Homo sapiens: one gene and its partners. The protein of the gene in region 1 interacts with the protein of each later gene in a pairwise test. Each region holds a gene or a part of one and is shown on either strand. Other genes may lie near its edges. The genes, in order: HUNK, CXXC5, ARMCX4, APPL2, TTC28, MGAT5B and EFNA1.

Evidence for each region.
Region 2: the proteins of HUNK (region 1) and CXXC5 interact in a two-hybrid assay, tested with the Homo sapiens proteins (one large-scale study listed by BioGRID and IntAct).
Region 3: the proteins of HUNK (region 1) and ARMCX4 interact in a two-hybrid assay, tested with the Homo sapiens proteins (one large-scale study listed by BioGRID and IntAct).
Region 4: the proteins of HUNK (region 1) and APPL2 interact in a two-hybrid assay, tested with the Homo sapiens proteins (one large-scale study listed by BioGRID and IntAct).
Region 5: the proteins of HUNK (region 1) and TTC28 interact in a two-hybrid assay, tested with the Homo sapiens proteins (one large-scale study listed by BioGRID and IntAct).
Region 6: the proteins of HUNK (region 1) and MGAT5B interact in a two-hybrid assay, tested with the Homo sapiens proteins (one large-scale study listed by BioGRID and IntAct).
Region 7: the proteins of HUNK (region 1) and EFNA1 interact in a two-hybrid assay, tested with the Homo sapiens proteins (one large-scale study listed by BioGRID and IntAct).

Annotation. Positions count from the first base shown.
Region 1 is NC_000021.9:32,002,020-32,004,564, forward strand, and holds the end of HUNK (hormonally up-regulated neu tumor-associated kinase), read left to right. Parts: 3' UTR 1-2,045; downstream 2,046-2,545.
Region 2 is NC_000005.10:139,679,349-139,681,865, reverse strand, and holds part of CXXC5 (CXXC-type zinc finger protein 5), read right to left. Parts: intron 2,020-2,517; exon of another isoform or gene 1,926-2,019; intron 1,503-1,925; 5' UTR 1,343-1,502; coding exon 419-1,342; intron 1-418. UniProt on the Homo sapiens protein: May indirectly participate in activation of the NF-kappa-B and MAPK pathways. Acts as a mediator of BMP4-mediated modulation of canonical Wnt signaling activity in neural stem cells.
Region 3 is NC_000023.11:101,488,456-101,491,955, reverse strand, and holds part of ARMCX4 (armadillo repeat-containing X-linked protein 4), read right to left. Parts: 5' UTR 3,367-3,500; coding exon 1-3,366.
Region 4 is NC_000012.12:105,174,988-105,177,174, reverse strand, and holds part of APPL2 (DCC-interacting protein 13-beta), read left to right. Parts: intron 1-158; coding exon 159-299; intron 300-1,092; coding exon 1,093-1,140; intron 1,141-2,187. UniProt on the Homo sapiens protein: Multifunctional adapter protein that binds to various membrane receptors, nuclear factors and signaling proteins to regulate many processes, such as cell proliferation, immune response, endosomal trafficking and cell metabolism.
Region 5 is NC_000022.11:28,677,041-28,681,188, forward strand, and holds the start of TTC28 (tetratricopeptide repeat protein 28), read right to left. Parts: upstream 2,801-4,148; 5' UTR 2,684-2,800; coding exon 2,582-2,683; intron 1-2,581. UniProt on the Homo sapiens protein: During mitosis, may be involved in the condensation of spindle midzone microtubules, leading to the formation of midbody.
Region 6 is NC_000017.11:76,937,904-76,941,403, reverse strand, and holds part of MGAT5B (alpha-1,6-mannosylglycoprotein 6-beta-N-acetylglucosaminyltransferase B), read right to left. Parts: intron 3,417-3,500; coding exon 3,261-3,416; intron 1,003-3,260; coding exon 856-1,002; intron 673-855; coding exon 556-672; intron 1-555. UniProt on the Homo sapiens protein: Glycosyltransferase that acts on alpha-linked mannose of N-glycans and O-mannosyl glycans.
Region 7 is NC_000001.11:155,126,448-155,130,675, forward strand, and holds the start of EFNA1 (ephrin-A1 isoform a precursor), read left to right. Parts: upstream 1-1,428; 5' UTR 1,429-1,530; coding exon 1,531-1,622; intron 1,623-4,228. UniProt on the Homo sapiens protein: Cell surface GPI-bound ligand for Eph receptors, a family of receptor tyrosine kinases which are crucial for migration, repulsion and adhesion during neuronal, vascular and epithelial development.

The DNA of each region.
Region 1 (2,545 bases):
TTGCTGATAAATCTTAAAACAACTAAGTACGTTGCAAATAATAGTACAGGTACCATCTTTTATGTGAAGTTCTTTTTCTTTTTTTGAGACAGGGTCTTGCTCTGTCACCCAGGCTGGAGTGCAGTGGCACAATCACAGTTCACTGCAGCCTCAACCTCTCCAGATTCAAGTGATCCTCCCATCTCAGCCTCCCAAGTAGCTGGGACTACAGTTGTGCACCACAATGCCTAGCTAATTTTTTTTGTATTTTGTAGAAATGGGGTTTCGCCATGTTGCTCAGGCTGATCTCAAACTCCTGGGCTCCAACGATCTGCCCACCTTGGCCTCCCAAAGTGCTGAGATTACAGGCGTGAGCCACTGTGCCTGGCCTTATGTAAAGCTCTTGACCTAGCATCTGACTGGAAACAAGCGGGAATTGCATTGGGGGGCATTTTCTGGGCCAGTTTCCCTGCCTTATTTTACCTGCAATAGGTGTGCCTACAAAAGTCTTTCTGACATACACACTGCAGGTGGCAGTTCAAGAAGAATCAACCTTTTTCATTTGGGGATATTAGGATCTTCCTTGGAGACTCTGAAAATGGCACACAAAGAATGGCAGTTATGAACGTGACTTCTAGATTTTGTCCTTGTAGGAGGCCTTGGTCATGGATAGGGGAAGAGGGATGATGGGATGGAATGGGAGGGTGGGATCTAGATGACCTCTTGAAATTGTCCCAGTTACTGCTTCCTTCATAACTGTTCACAAAACGTTTTTCATATATACCACCTTGTTTCCCCTGGGAAGTGAGGGGACGAAGCCTTAGAGGGTGACATAGCTAGAAAGTGGAGAAGCTCACTGTTCACTGTGCAAAGCCCCAGTAGTCGGATTCCGGGGAAAAGAACAAGTATCTAGTTTTGATGACAATGTTTTCTTGTAAGAATCCCAACACTTTAGAATAGAAAAGGACCTAAGATTCTCTGGCTCAGCCCCAGCCTTTCTGAAGAAGGGAAAACTAGGGACCCAGATGGTTTAAGGACACCCCAGAGTCCCCAGATGAGCTGGCATTTGAGCTGGTCTGGAGCAGAGTTTCTCCCTCAAAGAACACAGAGAAATCAGAGAGTGGCTGCCATGGTCAGAGGGGGATGTCAACAACAGATCAAGCCGTCATCACAACAGGTATTTCTGAAGTTCCTGCAGGGACTAGGTCTTGCATTTTTAAGTCCTTTTCAAAACTGTGCAGCTTCCTGAACCTTATGCTGTTTGTCCCATCCACTCTTGAAGCTGGGGAAAGACAGCTTTCTTTGGGAACTCTGTCTTTCTCAGTTGACTTCCCAAGTAAGCAGCAAACCCCTGGATAGCCTTGTTATCTACTTTAGGTATTAAGAGGCTATTGGGTTTTACTAGATTAAATCAATAAAACATTTCCTATAGAGCCATATCATACACTGAAGCAAATTCAGAAAGAATGCAAAACTGCTATCTTTTGGGGGAGTCTGGAAGCCTGTTGGTTAGTGTATTTATTTTCTTTGTGGGGTCTTCTGTGAGCTACAGGCACAGTAAGAATAATTCAGAGCGGTACTGGGAGTTGGTTCAATTTCATGTCATCACTTTTCAATGAAGGGAGTGCATTTCCTGAGTAGTAAATGAGTATATTATTTGTGGCAGCTTTTCTGTTAAGGGAGCTTTCCAGACATCTGGTTGCAAAGACAAATAGGATATATATTTGTACTTCTTCTCTGTGGACATGTTTTTGTGACACACAGTTATCTCTAGGAGTTGACGTCTGTGGGCACTAAGGGACTGAGGTTGGGGGAGAAAGCTGAGGAGGCTTTGGAAGAGAAGGTGAGGAGCATTTCAGGATTTGCAGTCCCCCTCCACATGTATCCACATCTGAGCTGGTGGTGTTCCAATAATGAGGCATTTGGGGCAACCAATTTTGGAAGGATAGAATAGCTTTATGTGGAGCAAACTTGAGGATCAATTGGAGTTGAGTGGTTTAAAACTTAAAGATGGCACAGGAAGCTGTATCATTTACAGGTGAAAAAAATAAATGGGTCTGACTTCAGGGCCTCAGCTCTTTGTATTTCCTACTTGGAAGATGGGCTATTAGCAATTTTGAAAGCAAAGGCTTTGGTTTACATTTAAACTCTATAATTTTTTTTAAAAATGTGTTCTTTCTAGTCTTGTTACCATAGCCAGCTGGAAAGGGCAAATTGCAAGCCTATATTGGGAACAAGTCTTCTTGCCGAAAGTAGGGCAGTGAAGTTCTTGGCAGATCTGAGATGAGAATGCCTTCCCCTGACTCCTTCATCAGTGTTCAGTGCTCACCTCCTCTGGCAACCAGTATGCTAGAAGATTAGGCTTTGCTATGATCACAAATTAATTCCAAATCTCTGTGACTTGCCCAATAAAGGTTTATTTCTTAAAATATTTTTATGAGGCTGGGCTGACCACAAAACGGCTGTCTTCCATATGGTGACTCAGGGATCCAGGCTACATCCAACTTGTGGCTGTGTCCCCTCAAAATGAAACGTCTTTGGCTGCTCCAGCACAGGAAGGCACGGC
Region 2 (2,517 bases), on another chromosome or scaffold:
TGAAACAGAATCCCTTAAACAGGGCAGGGGAGAGACCCAGAGTTCTAGGTCATGGACTGGATGCTTTAGGCCATGTCTGAGCATCAGAAACTTAGGACCTGTATGGAAATCTCAATACCTGACCCAGAACCCAGGAGAGGAATCAGAATCCCAGGGCCTGGCTGAGAATGCTAGGTCCTTGCCTGGAGTTTTATGCTTGCCTTGCAAATTATGGCCTGATAGGATTCTCAGAATGTGGCTCTGACTTTTGGGGCAGTAAACTGGTGTCTTGAAGCCAGACCCCCAGGCCCCAAGGACTGGGAGGGGGCATCCCCCAGACACTTGCCCAGGTAGGAAAAGTGGGGTCAGGGGATGGGGGTGGGTTTGGACTGCCAGACAGACACAAGAGCCCACACACCTCCCTCTAAGGCGCCGTTACCTCCAGAGCAGCGGAAGGCTTCTTTTTGAGTTCCTCACATTTTCTGAATTTGCAAATCTGATGGCCAGTCTTTCGATTCCTACAACTGCTGCACTGCTCGCAGTTGATGCGCCGCCGGCAGGGCGCGCACATGCCGCAGCGTTTCCGCTTCTTCTTGCCGGAGCTGATGGCAGAGGCCAGCTCTCCCTGCATGGGGTACTCAGCCAGGCCCGCCATGTGCAGCGCGCTCTCGGCCAGGAACACACCTGCCGGGGTCATAATGAAGAGGCCTGGGTTGATGGGGAAAGCGCCCAGGTAGGGGAAGTCGGACTGGCCATTGAGGGCTTCGGCACCTGCCACAGCCTCCATGTCAGGCAGGCCAGCACCCGCCTCGCTCATCAGCGGGAGATGCTCCTGCACCACGCGCTTCAGCATCTCTGTGGACTGCGCAAACTGCTGCAGCGTCAGCTGTCCCTCGGCTGCCAGCTCCGTGGCCCGCTCTGCCTTGCTCAGCAGGCTGGCCACAGCACCACTTTTGTGCTTTGAGGTAGGGTTGCTTTTGTCCACCGCCATGGCCGCCGCCAGGTCATGCCCATTGGCCAACAGGGAGGCAGCGGCTGCAGCCGCAGTGGCCTTGTCAGCAGACTCTCCGCCCATCATGCTGCCACCGCCACTACCACCACTGCTGCCAAAAGAAGAGTAGTGGGAGAGCGGGCGGGAGCGGCGCAGGCTCTTGTTGAGGGGCTCACTGATGATACCGCTCTTGTTCCGACGCTCGGGGGGTGGTGTGTCATCTGCCACTGAGGCTGGTGCGGCGGCAGCCACCACTGCACTCTTGTCTGCTGCTCCTGCCTTTGGGCCACTGCTGCCACTGCCACCGCTGCCATTGGTGCTGCTGCTGCTACTGCCGCCGGCATCCTGGGAGCCACCGCCGAGGCTCGACATGGTGGGGCCGAGGCCCAGACCCCACTGCAGAGGGAGCCTGCCAACTGCCGAGGGTCCACAGACCAGGACCTGGCCCTGCTGCCCACAACAGAGATGCCTGGTGGGCCTCGCTGCTCAGGGCAGGCACATGGTCAGGTGTCCAGGTGGAAATGTCTTCACTCTGTCACAAGAGGATACAGGGTCAGGGCAGCAGTGAACACCTCCCCCTTCAACATCGCCACCACCGCCACTATCAACGGTCCTGTCATCCTGACCACCATGTGCTTGACCAGGCATTTATTAAGCACCAGATCCATCCTGGTGAGAAATTTCTTATTTGTACTATCTCAGTTAAGACCCACAAGAACTCTAGAAGCAGTGGCTGGTAATCTACTTTATAGATGAGGGAAACAAGATTTAGGAGAACTACCAGTCTATGAACACACAGCCACCAAGCGGCATGGTGGAGGCCCTAGTCCAGGCCTCCACAGCCCAAATCTGCTCTGCTAGGGTCTAGGAAGACCTGCCAGAAGCAGGCAGTCCTTCTTGTGCTGGGGTGGGAGAGTGTTGGAGATGCTTATTAGCTGGGTGCAGTGGCTCACACCTGTAATCTCAGCACTTTGGGAAGCAGAGGCAGGCAGATCGCTTGAGCTCAGGAGTTTTGAGACCACCCTGGACAACATGGTGAAACTCTATCTCTGCAAAAAATACAAAAGTTAACCAGGTGTGGTGGTACATGCCTGTAGTCCTAGCTACTCAGGAGGCTGAGGTGGGAGGACTGCTTGAGCCCAGGAGGTTGAGGATGCAGTGAGTTATAATCATGCCACTGCATTCCAGCCTGGATGACAGAGTGAGATCCTGTCAAAAAAATAAAAATAAGAAAAAAACCACCTCCACATCCTAATCTTCCTTCTCCATCTGAGGAGAAGAGTGCTTGATGGTACAGATCATTAAGTCTGGAAGGCTGCCCCTGGATCCTCATCTGGGGATTACTAATACACATCAGTTATTTCAAGGCTCTGACATGTCCTGCAGGCAAAGGAACCTGGTTGCCTTTGTGTAACCCAGTTTGCCAATGAGTGCAGAACCCTTATTTCAGGGATCTTCTCCCCGCCTGCTACAGGGCGAGCAGCACAGGGCCAGAGGACCAGCCGTCCCCTGCCACAGTGAGAGGACATGCTTGTGCACACCCTGGC
Region 3 (3,500 bases), on another chromosome or scaffold:
GTCTCCATCCATGGTCTGAAACCTAAATTTGATCCACCGCTCAGCAGCAATCCAGTCTTCAACACCAATCCCATTCCAGTAGTAGTCATGGATGTTAGGCTGAGTCTTTCTGCAGGCTTGAGTGCCTGACCCACCCTCACTCTCAGAAGTGGGCATGGCCTCAGCCTCAGGCTTTGCATAGGCCTCATCTTCTGCTGTGGCTTCTGCCTCAGAAGTGGACATAGACTTGTCCCTTGCCCCAGGCAAGGTCTCACCCTGGGAACCGGCCACAATCTGAGGCTGGGCAGAGTGCCTTGTGCCTGCCCCAGTCCCTGCTTTAGGCACAGCAATGGTATTGCCCTTGACCTTATTCCTGGCACCAAGCAAGGTCTCACTCTGGGAATTAGCGACAGCTTGGGGCTGGGCAGAGCCCACTGTATCTGCCCCAGCCTCTGCCTTAGGCACAGCATTGGAATTGCCCCTGACCTTATTTTTGGCCCCAGGCAAGACCTCACCCTGAAAACTGGCCACAACCTGGACCTGGACAGAGCCCATTATGCCTGCCCCAGCCTCTGCCTTAGAAATAGCATTGGAATTGCCCTTGACCTTATTCCTGGCACCAGGCAAGGTCTCACGCTGGGAGTTGGCCACAACCTGAGGCTGGGCAGAGCCCATTGTATCTTCTCTGGCCCCTGCCTTAGACACAACATTGGAATTGCCCTTGACCTTATTCCTGGCACCAGGCAAGGTCTCACGCTGGGAGCTGGCCAAAACCTGAGGCTGGGTAGAGCCCACTGTATCTTCTCTGGCCCCTGCCTTAGACACGACATTGGGATTGCCCTTGACCTTATTCTTGGCACCAGGCAAGACTTCACCCTGGGAATTGGCCACAGCCTGGGGCTGGGCAGAGCCCCTTGTATCCATCCCAGCCCCTGCCTTAGACACAGCATTCCAATTTCCCCTGACCTTATTCTTGGCACCAGGCAAGGTCTCACAATGGGAATTAGCCACAGCCTGGGGCTGGACAGAGCCTGTTGCACCCATCCCAGCTTCTGCCTTAGACACAGCATTAAGATTGGCCTTGACCTTATTTTTGGCACCAGGCAAGACCTCACCCTGAGAATTGGCCACAGCCTGGAGCCGGGCAGAGTCTGTTGTATATGGCCCAACCCCTGAATTAGGCACAGTAGTGGGATTGCCTCTGATCTTATTCTTGGCACCAGGCAAGACCTCACCCTGGGAATTGGCCACAATCTGGGGCTGGACAGAGCCTGTTGTATCTGTCCCAGCCCCTGCCTTAGACACAGCATTGGAATTACCCTTGACCTTATTCTTAGAATCAAGCAAGGCCTCACCCTTGGAACTGGCCATAATCTGAAGCTGGGCAGTGCCCATTGCACCTTCCCCAACTTCTGCCTTAAGCACAACATTGGGATTACCCTTAACTTTATTCTTGGTGCCAAGCAAGGCCTCACCCTGGAAACTGACCACTGCCTCAGGCTGGGCAGAGTCTGTTGTACCTTCTCCAGCCCCCACCTTAAGCACAGTATGGGGATTGCCCTTGACTTTATTCTTGGCACCAGGCAAGGCCTCACCCTGGGGATTGGCCACAACCAGGGGCTGACCACAGACCCTCTGGTCTGCCTTAGTCCCGGCTTTAGAAGTGGCATTAGGATTGCCCCTACCATCAACCCTGGAATCAAGCAAGGCCTCAGCTGGGGTCTTGACCCCAGCCTGAGGTTGTGTACAGGTTTTCATGTCCATCCCAGGCCCTGTCTTACACTTGGCTTTGGCTTTGCCCCTAGCCTTACCTCTAGTATTAGGTAAGGCTTCACCCTGGCTCTGGGCCATACCTTGAGCCTTCATATCCACCCCAGCTCCTTCCTTAGGCATGGTATTGACATTGCCCCTGACCTTAATTTTGCCATCAGACAAGGTATCAGCCTGAACACTGGCCACAAGCTGAGGCTGTGTACAGGACAACATGTCTGTCCCATCCCCCACCTTAGCCATAACATTGGGATTGCCTCTGCTCTTATCCCTGGCATCAGGCAAGGCCTCAACCTGGGAATTGGCCCTCAAGTTTGCCTTGGCCCCTGCTTTAGTCATGGCATTGGGATTGCCTCTGTTCTTAACCTTAGCATCAGACATGGCCTCAGCGTGAGTACTGGCAACAGCTTGAGGCTGAGCAGCAGCTCTCATGTCAGCTCCAGTTATTGCCTTAGATATGACATTGGTATTTCCCCTACCATCAACCCTGGCACCAGACGTCACCTCAGCCTGTTTCTTGGCCACAGTCTGAGGTTGTATACAAGCTCTCACATCTGCCCCTGCCCCCACCTTACACATGGCATTGGTGTTACCCCCGGCATCAATCTTTGCCCCAGGAATGGCCTCAGTCTGGGTTTTGGCAAAAATTTGAGGCTGAGCAGAAGCCCTCGTGTCTGCCCCAGACTCTGCCCTAGACATGGTTTTACAATTCCCCATGTCCTCAACCCCAGTACCAGGCATGTCATCACCCTGGATCTTGGTCACAGCCTGAGACTGTGCACAGGACTTCATGTCCACTCCAGCCACCTCCCTGGACATGCCATTGGGATTTCCCCTAGCATCAACTGTGGCACCAGGCCTGGCCTCAGACTGAGTCTTAGCCACACTCACAGTCTCTTCCAGAGCTCTTGTCTTGGTTTCATCCACAATTCCAGTCTTGTTCGTGGCCCCCATCTTGGCCACTTCCCTGGGTACTGCCAAGGTCTCACTCTGTGTAACCATTACTCTGTTAATCTCTGTCTCTTTTTCAGCCAATATATGAGTTTCAGCTTTGGTCTGGGTCATTGCTTCTCTCTTGGCCTCTGTCTTGGCAACCAGCGCCCAAGCTTTAGCCTTGGTCTGTGTCACTGCTTCTTTCTTAACTATTTTGCCAGCCTCAGCATCAGTTTGGGTCACTGCTTCTTTCATGGCCACTTCCCTGGCTTTGGCCTTGACCTCAGTCAGAGTCACTGCCTCTGTCATGACCAGTGTTCCAGCCACCACTTTGGACTCAGATTGAGTCTCTGGCTCTGCCCCAACCATTGCCTTGGCCTGAGAGTTGGCTCTGTGTATGGCTATAGCAGTGGCCTTGGTCTCTACTTCAGCCCTAGGCCCACTTCTTGCTCCAGTTTCTGCTCCAATCTCGACTTGGGGTTTAGTCTTAATCTCTGCTTCATTTATGGCCAAGGTCTGGCTCTGTACCCCAACCACAGTCTCCATCTTAACTGTGGATCCATTTCTGGCAAGAGTCCTCACACTCTGGGCTCTTCCCTTGGTAAATTTGTAAATGTAGTAGCAGGTGCCAGCCCAGATCACCAGTCCTGCAGTCACCCAGCCCACTTCCTGAATGCGGCCCATGTAATCACCCCTGCTAAAAGCACGAACAAGGTATGGTAGAGCGCACTCGGGCTGGGGTAAAGAGAGTGGTAGTTGTGGGTGTAGGCCTGTGAGGGTGCTGGTCTTCAGCCACTCAAAGGCCACTACAGCTGCCT
Region 4 (2,187 bases), on another chromosome or scaffold:
GTATCTACCTTAAACACAGCCTAGGCACTTTATTAATAAAGATCTGCCACTAATAGGACTAATAGGATACTTTTTCTCATGACTTTTCCAGAGAGTAGCCTTGTCAGTTTTTAATTCTAGTAGTTGTATGATCTGTTGCCTTTTTTTCCACCCCCCAGTTTGAACTTACCAGTGTCACACAATTTGCTGCTCATCAAGAAAACAAGAGACTGGTTGGTTTTGTCATCCGTGTTCCTGAATCCACTGGAGAAGAATCTCTGAGTACATACATTTTTGAAAGCAACTCAGAAGGCGAAAAGGTCTCTTTTTCATGTGAAGATCCCATAATATCCCAGTCCAAACAAGTCCATTTTAAAAGAGTTTTCTGGCATTACTTCCTTGGATATTTAGTTGATTATTCTGCATGTCTCCATCCAGGAGTTCAGATAATACCTCCTAAGAAGGCCTCACTGAAAGAAAACTCGATTTAAATTTCTCTGTGGAAAATACCTATCAACCAGAATAGGGTGAATGAGGAAGAAATTTCATGGCAAGACATATTATTTAGTCGGGATATAAGGAAATGTTGAAAGCAGTTCCCCTCAAATTTGTTCTTTAAAAAAAATTAAGGCAAAAGCTACAATAGAGAATAATTTAGTCTCAGAGAGAAAACCAAGGAAGATATTAGAAAAGTTACACACAAGCTGTTGGTTTAGTATGAAAAACTTTTGACTCTATCTGCTACTTAGAATTTATCACAATTAACCAATCCTTTCAGTAAATTATCTGTTTGCCACTGTGTATATGGACATATCGTGGCTAAATACATTTAAGAGAGAGAAGAAAAATTCCTATTAAGAACTTTTAACACTGGAATTACCTGAGTTTCACTTACCTGGAATATTTTTTGTGTGGCATAAATTGGCAACAGAGGTCAGGACAGTTGGACGCAAATGCCCCGGGCCCTATGTGATGAGTCTCCTGCAGCCAGGTCCTGTGTTCCCAAGTGGGAACAGTGAGAACAGTGACCTCACTGTACTCCCAAATCACATTTGTTCTAAAATTTTATCCTTCTCTACTTTTGCCAATCACTACTTTTCTTGTCTTTTGCAGATATGTTATGCTATTAATTTGGGAAAAGAAATTATTGAGGTTCAGAAGGTAAGATGCATTCTAGCGCTGGTTTAGTAGCTACTCAAAACACATCTGTGTACACATACCAAGAGTCTTTTCAAAAAGAAAAGTGATGTTCACTGGAAAGTGTGGCCAAGTTTGGGATTTCCTTTTAAAAGTATTCTAACCACCAGAGGTTTTTGATCAGCTAGTTCCATGTTCACTGTTAACACATGAGGACTTCTTATCACTGCTGGAGCTCCTGCTTATCTGTTTTCTTGCTTGCATACTAGTTGGCTAGATTTCCTCTTTCAGATTAAGATGATAGATAAGTACCCACCGTGTGCTGCTCTAAGGCCTTGCTCCTCAGAGTATGATCACATGCCCCACAGCATTGACAGACGTCACCTGGGAGCTTTTAAGAAATGAGGATTCTGAGACCTCCCTGTCTTTCAGCAGCTTTTAATCTTTTGTTCATTCAGCAAATTTTTGAGAGCCTAGTTTGTGTAATTGAACAAGACAGATATAGTCCCTGCCCCCAGGGGGCTTCTAGTTCAGCAATGTACAGAACTTTCTGCAATAATGGAAATGATTTATATCTGCACAATTTAATATGCAGATTGAATATGGCAAGTGTGACTGAGGAACTGGATTTTTAAATTTAACTCAAATTTACATAGTAACATGTAGCCAGTGGCTACCATATTAGTGCAGTTCAGTCTTGGAGAGGTCAGAAAGACCAAGGACTAAGGCCACATACATGAAATAGTGGCAAGCACTGTAAGCTAGTATTTAATGGTATTGGTCAAAAGTTGGCAAACTTTTTCTATAAAGGGTCTTTATGTTTTTGGCTATCTCCCTTGCAACAGATTCAACTCTGCTATCATAAGACAAAAGCAGGCCAGGCATGGTGGCTTATGCCTGTAATCCCAGCACTTTGGGAGGCAGAGGCAGGAGGATCACCTGAGGTCAGGAGTTCAAGACCAGCCTGGCCAACATGGTGAAACCCCATCTCTACTAAAAATACAAAAATTAGCCGGGTGTGGTGGTGCACACCTGTAGTCCCAGCTACTCGGGAGACTGAGGCACAAGAAT
Region 5 (4,148 bases), on another chromosome or scaffold:
GCTACTTGGGAGGCTAAGGCAGGAGAATTGCTTGAGCCAGGAGGGTGGAGGCTGCAGTGAGGCCAAGATCATGCCATTGCACTCCAGCCTGGGTGACAGAGCAAGACTCCATCTCAGGAAAAAAAAAAAAAAAAAATATATATATATATATATATATATATACACACATATATATTAAGTTAAAACCCTACTGAAATGAAACCAATAAAATAAAATTCAATTTAATTAAAAAATAGTTCCTGAAATATTAATTTTCAAACAATTCTATTTTAGCTTTGACTCTGAACAAAATATAAACCTCAATTTCAAAATATCACAAAGATTGGCTGGGGGCAGTGGCTCACGCCTGTAATTCCAGCACTTTGGGAAGACGAGGCAGGTGGATCACCAGAGGCCAGGAGTTCCAGAGCAGCCTGGCCAACATAGGGAAACCCAGTCTCTACTAAAATAATACAACAAAAATTAGCCGGGTCTAGTAACCCCAGCTACTCAAGAGGCTGAGGCATTAGAATCGCTGGAATCTGGGAGGTGGAGGTTGCAGTGAGCGGAGATCATGCCACAGCACTCCAACCTGGGCAACAGACTGAGACTCTGTCTCAAAAAAATAAAAATAAGGCCAGGTGCCGTGGCTCACACCTGTAATCTCAGCACTTTGGGAGGCCAAGGTGGGCAGATCACTTGAGGTCAAGGAGTTTGGGACCAGCCTGGGCAACACAGTGAAACCTCCTCTCTACTAAAAATACATAAATTAGCTGGGCATGGTGGCACATACTTGTAATGCCAGCTACACCAGAGGCTGAGGCAGGGGAATCGCTTGAATTCGGGAGGTGGAGGTTGCAGTGACCTGAGATTGTGCTACTGCACTCCAGCCTGGAAGACAGAGTGAGGCTCCGTCTCAAAAAAAAAAAGAAAAAGAAGAAAATTTAAATTAAAAATTTAAAAAATCACAAAGACTACAAATACTCAGGTTTAAGCAAATTCCCACCTTTCTTGAATTAACAGTAATTCATATTTGCTTTGTCATAAATGTAGATATTTACCTGCCCCAATGGAATGAAATCCTAAAAGCCTAGTGTTCCCAAATGATGAAGAGAAAGAAACATGCATATTTTAATTTAGAATTTTGATTCAGAATTAATTTTAACCTAGCTGGAGTATACATAATCATTTATGTATTTATTTACTTATTTAAGAGACTGGGTTTCATTGTGTTATCCAGGCTGGAATGCAGTGGCACAACCTTGGCTCACTGCAACTTGTACTTCCTGAGCTCAAGCGATCCTCCCACCTCAGCCTCCAGAGTAGCTGAGACTGCAAGTGCACTCTACCACACCCAGCTAATTTTTGCGGAGACGAACGAGTCTCGCTATGTTTCCCACACTGGTCTCTAACTCCTTGGCTCACTACAGCCTCAAGCCCCTGGGCTCAAGCAATCTGCCTCCCAAAGTGCTGAGATTACAGGAGTGAGCCACCGCACCCGGCCTAGTGGATAGTGTATACTAAGCAACATGTACCCTGCTTTTGCCTAAAACATACTGAAAACATGGCATTGAACACAATCACAAAGTTGGGAGCTGAGAAAAATCATATACTGTAAAATAAATCTGAGATATTAATCTCAAGAAGCTCCTGAAAATGTCTCAAGAACTCCTATGCTGCACTCTCCCTAATAATTTAGACTTTCTACAGATATTTTCTGATCATCTACAGTGTGTCAGGCACCATGCCAGGTACCAAGATGCCATGGTGAGGTATACACAAAACCGGCTCCTGCTTGCAGGAAGCCTACTCTCTAAAACAGTGCTTGCCAAGCTCGCCTGATCACAACTTCGGAGCTTGTTTAAGTTCAAAATCGGCTTCCCTGCTGTGGTGAGCCACAGTCCGTGGCATTTTGATCAGGTGCTCCCAATGATTCCTACGCTCTAACGGGTTTGGGAGGCAAGGGTGGGGGTAAGCTCGAGAGCCCAGAGACATCCCGTCCAGCGGGAGCCCCACCTCTAAAGTCCATGTCGCTCAGCATCCTTCCCCCTGACTAGTGGCCCAAACACAGCACGAAGCTGAGGTGGGTGGAACGCTTTTCAAAACAACGCTCTTTGATGAGCCACCGACAGACTTGCTCGCCTCCGGGGACGAAGAGCTCACTCCTCACAAACCCCACCCCGGAAAGGTAGCACCTGAGCATCCCGGGCTGCGCCGACACCTGTCTCACCGCGGGTGCCGCTTACCGCTCCGGTGGACTCCAGTCCCCAGATTCCGCCCCACGGGGGCTGGGGGAAAAGGGGAGGCGCTGGGCGCATTAGGCGCTGACTGTATACCGACACCCCCCACCCCGGTGTGCGCAGGCCAACACCCATACACACCCTCACACACCCACACACATCCACACACACTCTCGCGGAAACTGAGCCAGGCAGGCGGCGGACCAGGTCCCGCCGCCTCACGGCTCGCGGCTGGGATCGAACCCGGACTGCGAGACGCCTTCCGCCTCGCAGGCGCTCCTCTGCCGCTGAGGCCCGGCCCGGCTCCCACCGCCGGAGTTTCACAAAGAAAGTCTCCCGGCCCGAGCCCCTCACGCACTCACCGGCGCCGACGCCGGCGGCGACTCTGGCTCCCGCCGCCTTCGGCTCCTTGCGGGGGTCGGCCCTTGGGTCGGCTCGGGCGCCGGCGGCGGCGACTGCTCCATCCCCACGGGGCCCGGGCCGCGTCCGCCTCGAGCTAACGGTCCCGCCAGCTAGGCGCGCGCGCCGGTTCCGCGCGCCATGTTCCCGCCGTGCTGCGCGCCGCCGCGGCGCCCCTCACTGCCCCCAAACCGCGCGCGCGCCCCCGCGGGCCCACACATGCACCGCGCACGCGCGCGTTCGCCGCGCCCCCTCCCCGCGCGCCCCGCCTCGCGCCCTCTGGAGCTGGCCGCTGTTCCCAGTGTCTCGCCCACCCCCGCCGGGCCCGTCGGACTCGGCGGGTGAGCGCGCGGTTCCCGGCTCCGCACCGCCGCCTGCCTCTCTGCAGACCACCCCGGACCCGACCCCTCGGCCATTTCCCCACACTGCCGCTTTCGCTTCCCCCACGACGCGGGGCCTGGGACGACGGTCTGGGCCAAGAGGAACTTCCCCGCAAGAAGTGTCGAGTTAAGGACGCTACTAAGGGGGCGGGATCGCCATCGTGGAGGTGTGCAAGCACGTGCCTGCGTCCCGGAGACAGCCAGACTCAACGGAGAAGCTGAGTTCAAGTCCCACATCTCCACTAACCCTTGCGTGTTAGGGTCAGGGCTTCGGGACTTGTTTCTCCTAAATCTTTTTTTTTTTTCTTTTTTGAGACGGAGTCTTGGTCTGTCACGCAGGCTGGAGTGCTGTGGCGCGATCTCAGCTCACTGCGAGCTCCGCCTCCCGGGTTCATGCCATTCTCCTGCCTCAGCCTCCCCAGTAGCTGGGACTACAGGCGCCGGCCACCACGCCCGGCTAATTTTTGTATTTTTAGTAGAGATGGGGTTTCACCATGTTAGCCAGGATGGTCTTTATCTCCTGACCTCGTGATCCTCCCGCCTCGGCCTCCCAAAGTGCTGAGATTACAGGTGTGAGCCACCGCGCACGGCCTGTTTCTCCTAAATATAAGGACTCAATATAATAATAAGAGAAAGCCTCAGCACCGCGCCTAGCACTTAGTAGGTAGTGATCAAGAGAGAAGACCTCTTAAGTGGTTTTAATGGTTAAGGACCACAGGTTCTCAAGAAAGGGAAATCTCAATTCAAGTCCCGCCTCCATCTCTTGAAAACTGAGAAACCTTGAACAAGTCACTCAGAGGAGCCAAAGATCCTTGATTTCTACATGTGCAAAAGGGGAGTGTGGCAGTAGCACTGCACAGGGTTGACTGAGCTTTCAGGGAGATGATGACTGTACGATCATGCCTCTCTTAATCACGGGATGGTTCTGAGAAATGCCTCCTTAGGTGATTGCGTCATTGTGCAAACAGCAAAGTGCATTTACACAAACCTTGTATAGCCTTGTATAGCCTACTACACACCTAGGCTGTATGGCGTAGCCTATTGCTCCTAGGCTACACACCTCTACAGCCTGATACTTTACTGAATATACTATAGGCAATTATAACACAATGTAAGTACTTGTGTACCTGAACATAGAGAAGGTACAGTA
Region 6 (3,500 bases), on another chromosome or scaffold:
GCATCAGGCACAAGCCCCTCCTCACTCTCACCCAGCCCACACATGTGCACCTACACACACCAGCACCCACGTTCGCTGGAGACCCAGGGTGTTCTGCCCCCTTGCTACTCGAAGCGTTGCCCCGCATTAACAGACGCTCTGTATGCACATTATATTTTGAAATGTGCTGTGTAAAGGCTGCAAAGCCACACCTGCAGCAGTTTCAAGAACCTCCACACATCCATCGTGAAAACATTCAGTTAGCACCTGGCCCTCAAAAGTGCTCCATAAACAATTTGAGATCCAGGGCTGCCATGTAAGGTTGTGCAGGTTGCTCACTGCACAAAGGCATTCCCCACACATCACACCTGAGTAGATGAATGGGATCCCCCATTCCATTCTCCAATCCACATGCCCTGGCTCAGGGCTGTGTCTGACCAGGGGAGGGATGGACACCTTTGCCAACCCAGGCCTGCAAGTCTGAACTCACCCAGAGGGGGGCACCGTTTTCTAATCAGAGTGAAGACCAGCAGTGTGGACTAGTGGGGGGTCTCAACTGTATGTGGCTGCTCTCACCTGAGTTCTCATAATGGCCTTGATGGCTGCTTCAAACTCCTCTGAGTTGTTGTAGTCGACTGTCCACACGTGGGGCTTGCCGATGAAGTTCTCCGCGTAGGGATGCTGGGAGAACACCTGGCAAGGGTACAGAGATTGCAGATGCCCCCCGTGCCTGCCAGTGGGACAGGGACAAAGAAAGGTACCCCATACACTTGTCCTATCTCCTTTTGCCCCACATCTCAGTCTGCCTCTTCCAGGACCTGCAGGGGTCTCTGTCCCGGCCCCTCCTGATCGGGGACCAGGATGCTTTCCACTCACCTCTCTGGAGGTGGGCTTGCCTCGGAAGAACTCGTGGTTGAGGGAGCTGTGGGGCGGGCTGAAGCGGGACTGCAGGAAGATGCAACCATTGGCGATGGCCTCCAGGGGGGCGGGGCCCTCGTAGGGGAAGCCAAACCCGATGAAGAGCTGCAGAGTCAAGGGGCGCAGTGATCAGGGAGGGCTGGGCCGCCACAGCCCAGTAAGCACCAGGATGCCGGGGACAAGGTGAGGCTTCGGGATATTCACAGGAGGCAGCTGGGCCTGGAGCGATTATTTTTGCTCAGCCTGTTATGTGAGCTATAACAGGGCTGGAAAAGCCAGCCCAGAACATCTTGTGCCACGGGCAAGCACTTCCCCTCTCTGGGCCTCAGTTTCCCCATTTGTGAAATAAGGGGGTCTAATTAGGTATTATCAATGGTCTCTTCTTGCTCTATCAGGCTATGATTTATGATTGTGGAGGGAGGAAGAAAAGAACAAGGGTTTCAGGCCAAGAAAGCTGCAGGCCCGCACCTGCAAGAGACCTCCAGGAACCTCACTCACTCATCCCAAAAACATTTATTCAGCATCTAACTTGTGTGAGGCTATTTACAACAGCAAAGACATGGAACCAACGGAGGTGCCCATTAACGGTGGCTTGGATAAAGAAAGTATGGTACATAGACACCATAAGATACTACGCAGACATAAAAAAAAACAAAATCATGTCCTTTTCAGCAATATGGATACAGCAGGAGGCCAATATCCTAAGTGAATTAAAGCTGGAACAGAAACCAAATACCGCATATTCTCACTTATAAGTGGGAGCTGAACATTGGGTACTTATGGGCATAAAGATGGCAACAACAGACACCTGGGGACTCCCAGAGTGGGGAGGAGGAAGGGGGTAAAGACGGAAGAATTAACTACTGGGTACTATCCTCACTACCTGGGTGACAAGATCCTTCATATCACAAACCTCAGCATTATGCAATATACCCAGGTACCAAGCCTGCATATGTACCCCTTAAACCTAAAATAAAAGTTGAAAAAAAATTTTGAGACGGAGTCTTGCTCTGTCACCAGGCTGGAGTGCGGTGGCACCATCTCATCTCACTGCAACCTCTGCCTCCCGGGTTCAAGCAATTCCCCTGTCTCACCCTCCTGAGTAGCCAGGACTACAGGCGCCCGCCACCACACCCAGCTGATTTTTTGTTTGTTTGTTTGTTTGTATTTTAGTAGAGACAGGGTTTCACCATGTTGGCCAGGATGGTCTCGATATCCTAACCTCGTGATCCGCCCACCTCGGCCTCCCAAAGTGTTGGGATTACAGGTGTGAGCCACCGCACCTGGCCAAAATTATTATTTTTTAAGTAACTTGTGCTAGGAGTGCACAGGGCTGGCCTCAAAGGCACTTAATAAATGATTCTGAATCCAGGGCTGTTCTGTGAGGTTGTTCAGGTTATTCACTGCATGCAAGCATCTCCACTGCCCCCAACACACACACACACACACACACACACACACACACACACACACACACCCCCAAGATGCCTTGGGAAACAAGCTATGGTGAGATCAAGAGAGGGCCTGGGGCCAGGTGCAGTGGCTCACATCTGTAATCCCAGCACTTTGAGAGGCCGAGGTGGTAGGATCGCTTAAGCCCAGGAGATTGACACCAGCCTGGGCAATGTAGGAAGACACCATCTCTACAAAAAATTTAAAAATTAGCCAGGTGTGGTGGTGTATGCCAATAGTCCCAGCTACTCGGGAGGTGGAGGTGAGGGGACTGTGTGAGCCTAGGAATATAAGGTTGCAGTGGGCCCTGATTGCACCACTGCACTCCAGCGTGGGTGACAGAGCAAGACCCTGTCTCATAAAAAAGAGGGTGAGGGGGTGCCTAGAAGCTGGCTGGAGACTCTCCAGCCTCAGCTGATACTCCAGGGTCCAGTCAGGGTTTTGCCCACTGTGTCAACTGCTGCTCCAGCAGTACAGCTCAGGGACCCCTGAAGCAGTCACTCAGGACTAGTGGCTCAATGGCACTCTAGCCAGGACCCTTCTCTCCACCCACCCAACCACCCCCCAGCTCAGTGTCTCCAAAAGCTAGGCCTGACCCAGGAGTCCATTTGGCTGGACTGGTACTGCAAGGGGGAGGATGGGCAGTCCAACTCTACTTCCCCATCACTGAGCCACGGCTCTGCTGCTCTGCTGGCCCTGCCCAGGTCCCTTTCTCTATAGGACCTCTCCTGCCTGGTGGGCACCCACATCTCTGCCCCTGGGCTCTGGCCAGATGTGGGGCTCAGGGCAGCAGAGCATGCTGGGGTATGTCCATATGTGGAAGGGGCCTGAGTGGTGGTGGCAGGCATGGGTGGTGACCTCAGTGTCTGCAGCCGGCAAGTGTGAGAATGGTGCGGGGGATGGGAGCTCACTTTGGCCTTGCGCAGCAGCTGCTGAAACTCAGGCTGCGGTAAGAGGCCGTGGTTCTTCACAAAGGCTGGCACCTCGGGGGGCCGCTGGCTCTCGTAGTACACGGTGCCATGGATCTCCATGTATTTGTTCAGGATGCCCAGGAACTTCTCCTTCCCCTGGAAAAAGAAGAGGAGGAGATGGGAACCACATGCAAACCACAGAAGGCAAAGTCCATGGAGGAGATCCCTTTGGTCTGGAAG
Region 7 (4,228 bases), on another chromosome or scaffold:
GGGTCCGTGGCTTCCCGCGATGCGCAGCCGCAGGGAAGGGCCGGCTGAGGATGCGCACACACACTCACAACACCAACCTGGCGCGCACACAGCCACACAACCACACACGTAAACCACCAAACGCACGCAGACACACAGCATTCGGCTCTCCCACTCCAGGCTCACTCGTGAGCCTAATCAAACACCTGCCCGCCCTCTCCACCCCAGGAGCTGACACCCGCCCGCCAAGCCCTCTCCAGACGGCAGCAGATCCAGGCGGGGAGAAGAGCCCCGAGAGGCAAATTCCAGTGGGTTTGTTTACACAGCGCGGGGGAGGGGGCCTGAGCCGGGTACTGGGGCCCGACTGACTGGGAGCCCCAGCTCAGACTGGGCCAGCTCCAGCTGTGCAGCCTGAGGACTGCGCACAAACGCCCCTCCGTTCCACCCCACCCCCGCTGCACGCCGGTACGCGTCTCCCCTCCTCTTCACACGCTGTTCACAAACATTAGCATACGTCTGTCAAAGAGTTTCACACGCTTCCACACACGCGGCTGTGATACTACTCACAAATGCTTTCATGCTAGCGCGCCATCACACGTATTTCATGTGTGGTTACAGTTTGTCACCCTTCATGCCCAGATTCTCACAGTCCATATTCAAGAGCCTGTTCGCACGGTGTACGCGTGTGTTGTTACATATACTCAGGTTATTAGCGCTCTTTGACTTATCTAAAATAAGAACGGCCCCCTCTCGAGCCCAGGGTCCCGCGTGTCGCTCCTGCGGGCAGGCACTGATGTGATGGACAGAGGCGTCCTTAGCCCCGGCCGCACACGTTACACACTCGATCACACAAAGCGTTGCACTTTATTCCCGGCATCTAGGCGATGACACAATCTCCAGAACAAAGACAACATTGACAAACCCAACAAAAACAAACAGCCGCGTGTGTGTGGGGAGGGGCAGTCAAGCGCAGAGTCCGGGAAGGGGATGGGGGAGGAGGAGAGTGTGGGAACGCGGGCGCCCGAGCCTGGGCATGCGAGGCTCAGAAAGGTGCGGGGCATGTCAACAACCTCGCACCCTGCAAGGTCCGCGCGCGGAGCAGCAAAGCCGTGTCCCGCACCCCCGCGTTCGCAGACTCGCACTTGCGAGTTCTTCCCTTCTCCCGCACGCGACTGCGCCCAGGGACGCAAGCCCACCACCGGGACAGGCTCACAAAGCTCCACGCAGACCCACAAGTGAGCGAACACACATCTCTGAGCAGATCTGCGGGGGCAGAGGAGCGCGCTTCGCTCTTTCCTGCACCCCCAGCCTCCTCGCCTCCCCACCCCGCCCCTCCTCCACCTCCCCAGCCCCCAAGCCCCCAGGCAGCCGCGCGCCGGGCGGGGCGAGGGCGGGGCGGGGTGTCGGGCGGCGCCGGCCCAAAAGGCGGAGTCGCTAGGCGAAGGGGCCAGATCTGTGAGCCCAGCGCTGACTGCGCCGCGGAGAAAGCCAGTGGGAACCCAGACCCATAGGAGACCCGCGTCCCCGCTCGGCCTGGCCAGGCCCCGCGCTATGGAGTTCCTCTGGGCCCCTCTCTTGGGTCTGTGCTGCAGTCTGGCCGCTGCTGATCGCCACACCGTCTTCTGGAACAGTTCAAATCCCAAGTAAGCCTCGAGACTCCCGCTGGCAGCCTGGGCTCCCGGCTGGCACTACCCCACCGGGATAACTGTCCCGGCCAAACCCTGAGCTGAGCCTAGAGTAGATGACCGAGGTAGGAGGGCGGCTGTAGATTTTCCTCCCCTCACTTCTCCGTCATATCTGGGAGCACCCCACCCCGGGGCATGCTTGTGTCTACTTGCATGGGCTTATATCTGCCCTTCCCTTCCTTCTCTCTGGCACCCCTATTACTCTAAAGTGAGGGACTCATGCTGGGCAGTTCCTGCCTTCAGCATAGACTTCGCCCCTGGCAGCCAGGGCCCTTGTTCCAGGCCCCCCACCCCCCCACTGTGAAAGCCTCCACGCCTCTCCTTGTGTGTCCTTTGGGTATCTGACCACACTGACAGATACCTGGTGTGACATCAAGAGTGCACAGAATGCTCAAGGTAACCCTGGAAGGACCTCTCAGGAGAGAGCTGGGCTGTAGGCATTCATTATGCATTCACCCTGTATTTAAAGCAAACCTGGAAAGTCCCTCACTAGGGGTCTTTTGGGGTGGCATGAGTGAGGCACATGCTGTGCATGGGTAGGCTGAGGGAATCACCTGTTTATGGGGCTCTCAAGTAGTAAAAGCGAAGAGCTGGGAGAGGGAGATCATGGGAAAGCTTCAGAATGAACAGAAGAGGTTAAAGGGGTTACAGAAGGTTCTGGGCAGGAAGGAGTTAATTTCTCCTGGGCAGGTTTAGGGCTGTGAGGCAAATGGTACTGGGAGGAAGACTCTGTCGGCCCCTTTGTTCTTGCCCTTGAGTTTTCTGAAGTTATGGGAACAATATTTGAGGGAATACAGGAGAGGGTGGTAGGGAGGAGCAGGGAGAGAAGTGGGCAGCTTGGTATCACGAAAGCCATCTCACCGGCTTAGCCACTCTCGGCCCTAGCAAGCTTGCCCCCCACTCCCCTTGAGAAATATGTTGTGCCAGCTTCCTCTGACCCCGTGTCATCGTCTGGTGAGGCAGTCTGTTGTCTGTGGCTTGTTAGGGTGGGGGAGAGAACAGCCAGCTGCCAACCCCAGAGGGCAATGCCCTCCTGCCCATGGACGCTGGGGAGGCTCAGCCAGCCCTCCGCCACCCGCTCCCTGTGCTTTGCCTCCTTGACCTGATGCATCTCGCCCTAGTATGGGAGAGAGCAAAGTCCCTGTTTATGCCCATGCCAGGTGTTGACTGGAGGAGGAGGAGGGGACAGGAAGCCATGAGTAGGGAGGGGGGGACCCTGGCCTTTTCCGTTCCCAAGCTCCCAGGTTTCCTCTCTTTCAGGAAGGAGCCTCTTCCTTACCCACCTCCCCGCCTTCCCTGACGCCGCTGCCCCCCTTTCCCAGATGGGGAGCAAGAGTCAAATGAAGGCTAAGTACAGCAGACTGTACCCCCAGGAGAGGGGGCTGATGGGTGACCCTCTGGCCACACACACACACACACACACACACACACACACACGCACACCCTATCATACCCAGGACTAAAGAGACGCCAGTCCAGAGTAGAGTCCGTAGGCAGCCAAGCTGGGCCCAGCGTGGGGGCAAATATGAGGCTACAATGAACGGGGTAGGTGAGGCTGGCATGGGTGACTCAGGCCAGTGGGCAGCAGCCCTGGGATCTCCAGGCCTCAGGCGGGGGCAGCATGCTGAGAAGGGCGCCAGCCTCCCTCATGCTGGAGGGCAGGCCCCTCATTCTGACCTGCCAGCTCCCTTTGTTTGGAGGACACTGTTGGGGGTGAGTGGGCGCTGTGCCCTCCTGGGGTCCTGGGGGCTGTGCACATTTGACAAGGTAAGTTTTCACAAGTTCTCATGAGTGCTGGGGCGGGTAGCAGAGGTGGATGAGGAATGAGTCAGTGCCCGTCACGGGAATGAGGGAAAGACGCCAGGCCCAGAGCTGAAATACCTGTTCTGAAATGGCTTCTATGTTTATCTCTCCAGAGAGGAATTTTAAAAGCCTCTCTCTGCTCCTCTCTTTTCCCCAGGGTGGGGGAGGGGCCTGGTAAGCCCAGTTTGGGCGCTGGCACGCTGCTGCAAAGCCTGGCCTCTCAGGGGTCATGCTGATTGGGCAGTGGGTGCCCACCTCCGAGTCCTCTCTGCCTGACTCCTTCCTCGCCCTCCCAGCCGTGGCCAGGGCTTTCAGTTCGAAGCAACTTAGCGCTAATTCTGCTGGGTCTCTAGCTGGCAGTGCCTGGGGGAATTAGAGAAACTGACCAGCTTGCGGGGTCGGGGGAAGCACTTTTCCCCCTACTGGGACCCCACCCAGGCTGGAGCCAGGTGTCTGGAGCTGGTGGGGAGGGGCTGGTGGGCAGTCAGGCTGGAGCCGGTGGGGCCAGGGGGAATGAACTAGGGGAGGGGTGCTGGCTCCACCTTGGGAGGAGGGGAGAGGAGGGGAGAGGGGGAGAGGAGGAGAGAGGGGAGAGAGGGGAGAGGGGAGAGGCTGTCTCAAGCTCAAGCTCAGAGCTCCAGCATTTCATCTAGGGGGAGGTGGAAGTGTGGCTTTTAGAGATAAAAGGACAGGGTTGTTTTGGGGTGCTCTGAGAAGGGGAAAAGGAGACCAGTGTATAACTTTGAGTAGCTAGAACGGGA